3 linked regions of the Homo sapiens genome follow. The protein of the gene in region 1 purifies or fractionates together with the protein of each later gene. This does not show direct contact. Each region holds a gene or a part of one and is shown in the gene's direction. Other genes may lie near its edges. The genes, in order: IQCF1, ABCD1 and SNX14.

The links.
Region 2: the proteins of IQCF1 (region 1) and ABCD1 purify together in Homo sapiens (affinity purification with mass spectrometry; 2 studies listed by BioGRID and IntAct, with this or other methods). This does not show direct contact.
Region 3: the proteins of IQCF1 (region 1) and SNX14 purify together in Homo sapiens (affinity purification with mass spectrometry; 2 studies listed by BioGRID and IntAct, with this or other methods). This does not show direct contact.

What each region holds. Positions count from the first base shown.
Region 1 is NC_000003.12:51,901,343-51,905,092, reverse strand, and holds the start of IQCF1 (IQ domain-containing protein F1), read left to right. Parts: upstream 1-1,739; 5' UTR 1,740-1,820; coding exon 1,821-1,823; intron 1,824-2,003; coding exon 2,004-2,108; intron 2,109-2,268; exon of another isoform or gene 2,269-2,300; coding exon of another isoform or gene 2,301-2,303; intron 2,304-3,750. UniProt on the Homo sapiens protein: Involved in sperm capacitation and acrosome reaction.
Region 2 is NC_000023.11:153,741,830-153,745,379, forward strand, and holds the end of ABCD1 (ATP-binding cassette sub-family D member 1), read left to right. Parts: intron 1-1,157; coding exon 1,158-1,242; intron 1,243-1,391; coding exon 1,392-1,517; intron 1,518-1,659; coding exon 1,660-1,906; 3' UTR 1,907-2,926; downstream 2,927-3,550. UniProt on the Homo sapiens protein: ATP-dependent transporter of the ATP-binding cassette (ABC) family involved in the transport of very long chain fatty acid (VLCFA)-CoA from the cytosol to the peroxisome lumen.
Region 3 is NC_000006.12:85,545,177-85,548,926, reverse strand, and holds part of SNX14 (sorting nexin-14), read left to right. Parts: intron 1-550; coding exon 551-626; intron 627-1,376; coding exon 1,377-1,421; intron 1,422-1,529; coding exon 1,530-1,610; intron 1,611-1,700; coding exon 1,701-1,815; exon of another isoform or gene 1,816-1,843; intron 1,844-3,750. UniProt on the Homo sapiens protein: Plays a role in maintaining normal neuronal excitability and synaptic transmission. May be involved in several stages of intracellular trafficking. Required for autophagosome clearance, possibly by mediating the fusion of lysosomes with autophagosomes.

The sequences.
Region 1 (3,750 bases):
TGTCGCCCAGGCTGGAGTGCAGTGGCATGATCTCAGCTCACTGCAAGCTCTGCCTCCCAGGTTCATGCCATTCTGCTGCCTCAGCCTCCCCAGTAACTGGGACTACAGGTGTCAACCACCACACTTGGCTAATTTTTTGTATTTTTAGTAGAGACGGGGTTTCACCGTGTTAGCCAGGATGGTCTTGATCTCCTGACCTCATGATCCTCCCGCCTCAGCCTCCCAAAGTTCTAGGATTACAGGCATGAGCCACTGCACCCAGCCCAAACTCCCATTTTTAAAACCATCAAATCTCTTGAGATTCATTCACTATCATGAGAACAGCACAGGAAAGACCTGCCCCCATAATTCAGTCACCTCCCACCAGGTTCCTTCCACAACACATGGGAATTGCGGGAGTTAAAATTCAAGATGAGATTTGGGTGGGGACACAGAGCCAAACTATATCACACCCACAACTTCCCACATCTTTCAATGTATTCCCATATTCTCCACCCCCTCATCCCATTAACTTCACATCCCAGCCTCAAATGGCCTCCTCCTCTTCCCTACATTCCCCCTACAGATCCACATTGGCCTCTCCCATACTCACCCTATACATTTCAAGTGCACTTCTCAGTGACCCCAGGGGCTGTGCCTCTCATGGCCTTACCCTGTCCAGCTGGGTCTTCAGAGGCCGAGATCAGGCAGAAAGGGGCCATGCTTGTGCAGTGGCCACCTTCATCCATCTGATTGTGGCCTTGAGACCCCAGGGACAGAGGAAGACAGGAGAGCACTTGGACCCATTTGAGCCTCAGATGGAGTCCAGGCTGGTCCTCAGGCCCTCATGGGGTTCCTTGGGGACTGTGTTAGGCATGAGTCAGCAATTTAACTCTCCTCTCCAAAGGTAATCATTGGTAATAGTTTGGTATATATACCTTTTTTCTTCTTTATATTCATTTACAACATATAATGTGTATCATGTAATAACTTCTGGCATAAATTATTCAATTTTATGTGTATAATTATGTTCCTAGTTTTGTTTGCATAGTGGGATCAAAAGGAACTTTAGTTTTTTACTTATAAATACATCTTTATATATTTCCTCATTAGTAATATAGATCAAATTCTTATTTTTAATAGTTATGTAGTATTTTATAGTATGAATGAACTATGCATCATTAAATTAATCCCCTATTGATTATTTAAGTTGGCTATATAAGTTTTTTCTTTTCTTTTTTTTTTTTTTTTGAGATGGAGTCTTGCTCTCTTGCCCAGCCTGGAGTGCAGTGGCATGATCCTGGCTCACTGCAAACTCCACCTCCTGGGTGCAAGCGATTCTCCTGTCTCAGCCTCCTGAGTAGCTGGGATTACAGGTGACAGCCACCACACCCAGCTAATTTTTGTAATTTTAGTAGGGACAAGGTTTTGCCATGTTGGCCAGGCTGGTCTCGAACTCCTGACCTCAGTTGATCTGCCTGCCTCGGCCTCCCAAAGTGCTGGGATTACAGGCCTGAGCCACTGCGCCTGGCCAAGTTTTTTCAATTAAATGTTATTAGAAATGACTGGCTTTTTATAAACCTTACAGCAATGGGCCAGTATTTCTGGCATCTTGCCTTTGAAGTCAGGGCTTTGGCCATTTCTGGCAGAAAAGAATGGGCAGCGCTTTTGTCTTTCCCTTGGAGGGGGCTCACTTGTTAGGAGCCATCTGGTGCCTGAGTCACAGGTGCCCTTATGACATCACAGGCCTTTCTTCCTCCACCCTTCCTGCCTATGCTATGGCTGGATGAACACAGATGTGAGGGGATTTGAACCATCTACAATCAATCCATATGTGACCAATGGTAAGAGAAAGCCAGACACACCAGGCTTGTTAGGGATGTCCCCATAGATCTCTCAGGGTGAAGGGACCCCCTGACACTGAAGACTCTAAGAAGCCCTGGAAGCTGGGGATGTGTGCCATATTGAATGGAGAGGGAGGGACCGCAGCCTCACTCTTGCCTTTCCCCTAATGCTGATTGCAGGAGGAGAAGCAGCCCCAAAAGACGAAGGAACCCTCAAAAGAAGATGAGCCTCAGCAGAAGGAGATGCCAACCCATTTGTCCTTAGGAGCAGAGTCAAAGGCAGAGGTAGGAGGAGCCCTGACTTGGATGTCATTGATCCCATGTCCTAGTGCTAGTAGCTAGTGTCTTTTGCATGGTGCTGTTATAAGTGAAGTTTCTGTGCCGCAAAAGAAATAGCACTCAAATATAAAATTTTCTTTTTAATTCTCAGCAAGGCAAGGTACTTCTATAGAAGGGTGCGCCCTTACAGATGGAGCAATGGTGAGTGCACACTTGGACAAGGGAGGGGAAGGGGTTCTTATCCCTGATGCACGTGGCCCCTGCTGCTGTGTCATTCCCCTATTGGCTAGGGTTAGACCACACAGGCTAAACTAATTCTGATTGGCTAATTTAAAGAGAGTGATGGGGTGAGTGGTTTGGTGGGAAAAATGGTTACCGCGGAGCAGGAAATCGGAATGAGTCAGGGTGGAGACTGAGCAGGTAATTGGAATGAGTCAGGGTGGAGCCGGTAATCGGAATGAGTCAGGGGGGAGTAGGTAATCAGAATGAGTCAGGGCGGAGCAGGTAATTGAAAAAGGTTGCTTTACAAGGAAGTTAAGTTTAAAAGTAGAAGGCAAAGAATTGAACATATTGACATACTGATTCTTTGAAGAGAAATTTAGAACTCATACCTAACAACTTCTCCTCTTGCATTTCCTTACAGCTCTTTCTCTTTAAACTTCTTTAACATGTCTTGGCTTAGATGTTCTGCTTGATTTTCCAAAAGAAGAAGCTTCTCTGGATAAGGTGGAGAATAGTTAAGGGAGGTTTTAGTAAGTGCTGTTTTTATGAGCCTCTTTGCACCAACCCACGGACGCATGGTGTGACACAGCACCCAACAAGAATAAATACACCCATTGCGGCTGCCAGGGAAGTGAGAATTGAGGCTATAATTCTTTTCCATTTACTGAACCACTTTTCTAGCCATCCTGTAAAGGGCTCATTTAACCCTGAGTTGTTGGCTAACTCATTGGACAGGGCAGTCAGACCTTGCAATGCCTTTGTTATACTTCCATCAGGGGCAGTGTTGTTTGGGATGAAGGTACAACATTGAGTTTTAATCATGAGGCAAACTCCTCCTCTTTCTGCTATTATCATGTCTAAGCCTATCCTATTTTCCCAAGCCATCCGGCTAGTAGCCCCTAATTGCTCAGCTATTCCTTTAACACCATCTCTAGTGTAGTTAATAAATCGCTGTTGGTTGTAGCATATGTAGTTTATTCAATCTATATTTTTATTAATTGTCTCTCAACAAAATATTGACTCAAATCCTGCAGCTATTTGATTTTAGGCTTTAAATTGATCTGGTATTCCCTGCTAGACTCCAATTGCATTTAAATAGATGTGAGAGTCAAAAGACCCATAAGGGGCTTCTCTCACTTTACGATGTCTTATTTTTCCTTCCTCTGGTTGATGAAATGCCAGGGTGAAAGGGATAGCCAATTGGACTAAAACACAAGTGCCACTTCAGATATTCATCAGAGCGTCCAGTAAAGGTCCACCACAATACCACCACACATCCCCTCGGGGATGAACAAGGGCTGACTGATTGATAAGCTCTTGAAAATTCTTAAGCTCACTGCATCCGTTCAGGTCTCCAAGGAATGCTAAGTTTCCTCCCTGTCGTGAGAGACATGAAGTGAACTTAGTATTGGGAGATGGAAGCTGG
Region 2 (3,550 bases), on another chromosome or scaffold:
TGTGAGTTTATCCTACTGAGCTGTTAGGTCCCAAGAGAGCCAGGCCACGGTTGCCAGGGCTGGCCCTGCTCTGTGAAGGCCCCAGGGCTCGAGGATTTTCTACCAGGTCACTCTGCTGTGTTTGGCCTCCGTTCCCAAAGTCACCTCATGATCCAGGAGGGCTGCTGCAGCCCTCACATCATGTCCCAGGCTGTAGGATGGAGGAAGTAGAAGGGAAGGGGCAAAAGGTATGTGCCTTCTTTTAAGGAAGGTTCCAGAAGCCGCCATATTGAATACTTACAGTTATATCTCATTGGCCACAACTTAGTCTCATGCTCACACCTCATCACAAGGCCACCTGGGAAGCGTAATCTCTACTCTGGGTGGCCATATGCCCTGTTGCCACTTCTAGCCCTGGGCCGCTGGGGAAGGCAGCATGGGCGAGAAGACAGGAAGGGCCGCTTCTGCCGCAGCGCCCCGACCTAATGGAGCAGCCGGCTCACCTGCTCGTTCAAGCAGCCCACTCGAGCCTTGCCAAAGTGCTGACACGGGGCAGTGACAGGAGGCCCAACCCCTGTGGGTGACAAGCCCCCGGTCTGGGGAGAGCACTCAGGCCGCTCTGGAGCTCTGTGCCAAGGAACTGTATGGGTGCCCTGGGGCTGCCATAAACCGCAGGGATGGATTGTCTCCTAGATCCAGCAGTCCGAGATCCAGGTGCCAGCAGGGTGGGCTCCTTCCGGGTGCCATGACAGAAGGATGTGTTCCAGGCCTCTGTCCTCGGCTCGCAGATGGTCCACTTCTCCCTGTATATCTTCACCTCATGTTCCCCTGTGCATGTCTTCTGCCCACACACCCCCTTTTTATGAGGACACAGTCATATTGAATTAGGGTCCACTCTGATGACCTCATCTTAGTGTGATCACCTCTGCGAAGGCCCTGTCTCCAAATAAGGTCACACTGAAGTGTTGGGGCTTGGACTCCACCGTATCTCTTCTGGGGGAAGGCACGATTCCAGTCCCCACTCCTCCATGATTAATGCCTGTCAGACAGACAAGGACGCAGAGGCACAGGGGCCCTGTCGTCACAGCTAGCTCATTCCCGCAGCTCCCCCAGCTCCCCGGCTGGCCCCCGGGTCTGGGTGCTGGTGGAACTGAGCCAAGACCATTGCCCCCGCCTAGGTTGGGAGGCTATGTGTGACTGGAAGGACGTCCTGTCGGGTGGCGAGAAGCAGAGAATCGGCATGGCCCGCATGTTCTACCACAGGTGAGCACTCCGGGCCGGCAGGCTCCCTGGGGTCCCCTGGAAGGGGAAGTAGCAGCTGTGGGGAGGCCTGGGCTCAGTGGAGCCTGAGCCGGGCTGGGGTGTTGGGCCCTGGAGGGTGCACAGACTCTCCTCTCGGCCCGGACCCCCAGGCCCAAGTACGCCCTCCTGGATGAATGCACCAGCGCCGTGAGCATCGACGTGGAAGGCAAGATCTTCCAGGCGGCCAAGGACGCGGGCATTGCCCTGCTCTCCATCACCCACCGGCCCTCCCTGTGGTAGGTGCCCTGTCTCCCTGCCTGGGGTCGGTGGGAGTGGCTGCCTGAGGGGAGGAGGTGGCCTGGCGGGCCCGGCAGCAGCAGGCGGCTGTCATCAGCAGCCCCCGTGCCGTGCCCCTGACCCTGTCCCTCTCCTGGCCAGGAAATACCACACACACTTGCTACAGTTCGATGGGGAGGGCGGCTGGAAGTTCGAGAAGCTGGACTCAGCTGCCCGCCTGAGCCTGACGGAGGAGAAGCAGCGGCTGGAGCAGCAGCTGGCGGGCATTCCCAAGATGCAGCGGCGCCTCCAGGAGCTCTGCCAGATCCTGGGCGAGGCCGTGGCCCCAGCGCATGTGCCGGCACCTAGCCCGCAAGGCCCTGGTGGCCTCCAGGGTGCCTCCACCTGACACAACCGTCCCCGGCCCCTGCCCCGCCCCCAAGCTCGGATCACATGAAGGAGACAGCAGCACCCACCCATGCACGCACCCCGCCCCTGCATGCCTGGCCCCTCCTCCTAGAAAACCCTTCCCGCCCTCGGGAAAGTAGATGTGGAGGGTGGCGCCCTGCGTAACCCTCGCCCTGTCCCTCCCACTCCCTGGGGGCGCTGTTCCACAGTGACTGGGCCCTGTCCAGGGCAGTGAGTCCTCTACTTTGCTCCGTGGAGGAAGCTGGGGTACAAGGGGCCCAGTGCTGGCCACACAGCAGCGCAGCCGAGCCCCAGGAGCCCGTCAGGCCACAGCCCCTGGCACTGCAGGTGGCCTCCCTCCAGAGACTCGAGTCCCCATGATTCCCTCCTCGTCAGTCTCTCAAAGACCCCATGGTCCATCCCCTGAGGGTGGTCAGCCAAGGCTCCCGTTCCGTGGGATGCCATAAAAGCCGCCCAGTGGGACCCACAGTCACACAGAGCGCCTCACCTGCATCCTCTCCCCCACAAGAGCCCCAAAGATCCCACGGGAGAGGGGAGAGGGACGCACAGCACTGCCTGCCAAGCGAGAATGCAGGCCCCGCCCCCTCGGCCCCTCACCACCTCTTTCTACAGCCTAATTTATTGGATTCCCTATTCGTAGCCATCTCCGTGGCCAATGTGACTACCGTGCCAGCAGCGGGGGCGGCCCAGCCTCTGAGTCCCGTGGGGCCCCGGCTCCCACCGGTGCCAAACCCAGCCCCTGCGGCCGTCACCCCGCCAGCCTACACTGCCAGCCGCCACCGGGGCACACGGGCCTCTGCTTGCCAGCCAGGAGTGCGGACACCATGTTCCCAGCTCAGTGCCAAAGAGGGGTCACCAGGGGGAGCTGTCTGCGGAGCCAGCGCCTGCCCGAGAGAGACCCCACCGCCACCGTGTGCCTTTCCCGGGCCCTCAGCCCTCGGGCCGGGCACCACCCCCAGTCCCCCCAGTAAAAGCCTCCACTGGCAAATGCAGTCCTTCCTCCCTGCCTCAGAGCCTGGTGGTGTCTGCTGTGGGTCTCGAGGAGAGATGGAGGAGAGGGAGTGGGTTGCCTGTGGGGGAAAGAGTGAGTTTGGGAAAGGAGTGGGCCTGACCCCCAAGCCCCTCCGAGGGGGAAAGTCACCAGAAGACATGGTCCAGCATGCCCTCCGCCGAGCCTCACGCCAATGCTCTTAGGATTCCTGTGACGGTGGCGGGGCGGAACCTGCAACAACATTGCACAGAAATACTGGCTGAGCCCAAATAGGACTAGGGGAGGGGATCATGCTGGTCCCTGTGGGAGGAGCACGAAGGCAAGAGAAGGGATGTCTAAGCTGCCACACAGGGTGCTGCTGGCCCTTCTAGGGAGAGGCGGCCACTTGTGCAGGGGCCTGGGGGGAACTGGGAGCACAGCGCAGGGTGTTCGTGCTGCATGCAGGGGAAGGGAGGGCAGGGGAAGGGAGGGCTGCGGCCGGCGGGCCTTGGAGGCCACACTACAGAGACAGGACTTAGCCCAGAGGCCACCGAGGAGCTTTCAGCAACAGGGAAGCAGTGTCGAGTACTGCAGGCCACGTGGCTGCATGTGAGGGTGGCTGGTGGGAATAGGGTGCGGCAGCCCATCTGGCCT
Region 3 (3,750 bases), on another chromosome or scaffold:
GGTGTGATCTCGGCTCACTGCAACCTCTGCCTGCCGGATTCAAGCGATTCTCCTGCATCAGCCTCCCTATTAGCTGGGATTACAGGCATGCACCATCATGCCCAGCTAATTTTTGTATTTTTAGTAGAGACGGGGTTTCATCATGTTGGCCAGGCTGGTCTTGAACTCCTGACCTTGTGATCCCCCTGCCTCGGCCACCCAAAGTTCTGAGATTACAGGCGTGAGCCACCCCACCCGGCCGATAGAGAGTTTTTCCTAATGTCCCCCAAGTTCCTCCTGTTAAGGGAATACTTTTTCTTCTCTTAAGTAATATTCTATTTTAGCCAAGTAAGAACTCTAACTCTTTGCTATTCAACGTGTGTTCTGCAAACCAGTAGCATGAACATTGGTTGAGAGTTTGTTAGAAATGCAGACTTTTAGGGCCTAACCAAGACCTACTGAATTATAGTCTCCATTTTAACAAGATCCTTACGTAATTCACATGCACTTGAAAGTTAAGAACTAATATAAATCACTAAATATAAACAATTATTATTATTTCTTTTTCCAGATCTCTGACCTTACTTATAAGAGAGATTCTGTCTGGCTCTGTGTTCCTTCCTTCTTTGGATTTCCTAGCTGATCCAGTAAGACTTAAGATTTTTTTTTAAATTGTTACAAATTACACTTAATATAACATTTAGTATCTTAAACATTTTTATGTATATAGTCAGTGATACTGAAAACATTCATATTGTTGTGCAACCATCCCCATTCCCCATCTCCAGAACTCTTCATCTTATGAAATTGAAACTCTGCATCTGTTAACAATAACTCCTCATTCCTTCCTCCCTCCAGCCCCCCCTGGCAACCACCATTCTGCTTTCTGTCTCCATGAATTTGACTACTCTGGGTACCACATATAAGTGGAATCATAAGTATTAGTCTTTTTGTGACTGGCTTATTTCACTTAGCATAGTGTCTTCAAGGTTCATCCATGTTGTAGCATGTGTCAGAATTTCCTTCCTTTTCAAGGCTGAGTAATATTTCATTGTATGTGTATAACATGTTTTGCTTATCTGTTCATCCATTGATGGACACTTTGGATGCTTCTACCTTTGATCCAGTGAGATTTTGAAGAAACAAGAATGATTTAGAAATATTTTAAATGCCAAAATCAGAATAGCTTTTATTTGCCCATTTTCACAAAGGTTAAGAACCTGTTTTGTAGATGTAAAAAAACTCCTGCTGTAATACATATGTGCAGATTTTTTGCTACTGCTCCATTTATTTTTTCATTTTTCTAGAAACTTACATAATATGATACAAGTTATGAGAATTCTGGGGAGAATACAGTAGTGGAATTATTTTGACTTATGTTTATTATTTTCCACTAGGATACTGTGAATCATTTGCTTATCATCTTCATAGATGACAGTCCAGTGAGTATTGAATATATTAGAAAACACTTCAGATTGCATTGAATTTTGATTTTGTATGTCAAATCAAGTGGGAATTTTACTGAGTTAATAATTCTCTTTCTTTCAAAGCCTGAAAAAGCAACTGAACCGGCTTCTCCTTTGGTTCCATTCTTGCAGAAATTTGCAGAACCTAGAAATAAAAAGCCATCTGTAAGAATTTTCAGCAATAACACCTTTTTGATATAAACAATTTTAGAACTCATTTATATAGCTTAAACTTAATCTTTCTCTTATATCAAGGTGCTGAAGTTAGAATTGAAGCAAATCAGAGAGCAACAAGATCTTTTATTTCGTTTTATGAACTTTCTGAAACAAGAAGGCGCAGTGCACGTGTTGCAGTTTTGTTTGACTGTGGGTGAGGCTTACCTGTGTATTTTACGAAAGTAATTTTTAAACCTTTTAATGTATTTGAATATTTTAAATCAGATCTGATGTTGTGGTACCCATCTATCATTGTACTAAATTTCATATACTCGATTTCCTTTTTTTTTTTTTTTTTTTGTTTGAGGCGGAATTTCACTCTCGTTGCCCAGGCTGGAGTGCAATGGTGTGATCTTGGCTCACTGCAACCTCCGCCTCCTGGGTTCAAGCGATTCTCCTGCCTCAGTCTCCCAAGTAGCTGGGATTACAGGCATGTGCCAGCACCCCAGCTAATTTTGTATTTTTAGTAGAGATGGGGTTTCTCCATGTTGGTCAGGCTGGTCTTGAATTCCCGACCTCAGGTGATCCACCCACCTCGGCCTCCCAAAGTGCTGGGGTTACAGGCGTGAGCCACCGCGCCCGGCCATATACTTGATTTTCTAAGAGCATATGTGGGTTTCTCTCAAGTGCCCACTTCTTTCCAGATTGGGAAATAATCTGTCACTAACTTCATTCAAATCCTAGTAGCAGAAAAAAAAAATACTAAAAGTACAGTATAATGAAAATATATTAAAAACCCAAACTGTAGCCCATGTCAATATCACTTTTTCACAGTTTTTGTAAAGGATTGTTTTGACTAAATTATCAAATATAAGAATACCTCATTTTAATTATAAGCTCTGTAGCATTATAGATTATTGGATTTATAAGAAACTTTATAGACTGAAAATATTGTTTTTAATGCATTTAATTTCTTTTTAAAATATAACTTTAAAAATGAGGTATAATTTATATAGTGAAACACATGGAATTTAAATGTATAGTTTGATCAGTTTTGCATGTGTGTACATCCACGTAACCTGCATCTTTATCAAGATCTAGAACATTTATTTCCATCAGCCCAGAAAATTCCCTTAGGATCCTTCCCAAGAGATCCACTCTTTCCCCTACTCCTGCCAAAGCAATCACTGGTCTCATTTCTCTCAGCACAGATTAGTTTTGCCTGTATAATTTTTTTTATATAAATTGAATCACATAATATGTACTCCTTTGTGCCTAGCTTCCTTCACTCAGGATAATGCTTTTTAAAGTTCATGTATGTTTTTGTCTAAATAAGTAGTTTGGGCAAGGCGCAGTGGCTCATGCTTACAATCCCAGCACTTCGGGAGGCCGAGGCAGGTGGATCACTTGAAGTCAGGAGTTCGAGACCAACCTGGGCAACATAGTGAAACCCTGTCTCGACAAAAATACAAAAATTAGCTGGGCGTGTTGGCTCATGCCTGTAATCGCAGCTACTCAGGAGGCTGAGGCAGGAGAATTGTTTGAACTTGAGAGGTGGAGGTTGCAGTGAGCCGAGATCATGCCACTGCACTCCAGCCTGGGTGACAGAGTGAGACTCTGTCTCAAAAATAAATAAATAAATATGTAGTTTGTTCTTTGCTGAGTGGTATTCCATTGTATGAATGCATATATCTTTTAAACTTCATTATTAGGTGCAGACACATTTAAGATTGTTATATCTTCTTAATGAATTTATTCTTTTATCATTATAAAATGCTCCTCTTTTATCTTTGGTAATTTTTAGTCTTGAAGTCTGCTTTGTCTGATGTTAATATAGCCACATCATCTTTCTTTATATTTGAGTGTTCATTTGTATATCTTTTTCTATCTGATTGAAATGTTTAATGTATTTCTAGTAAGCAGCACATAGTTTCTCTCACTTTAAAAAAACCTAATTTAGTAATCTTTGCTTTTTAATTGGTATCTGTAGTACATTTACACGTGATATATTTATTATGTGTTTATTGTTAGGCCTTACATCTTGGTGTTTGTTTTATATTTGTCCTGTATATTCTTTGCCTTTCTTTTTCTCCTTTGCTGCCTTTCTTGAGGTTATTTTTTAGTATTTTATCTTTCCTATTTTTTTGAG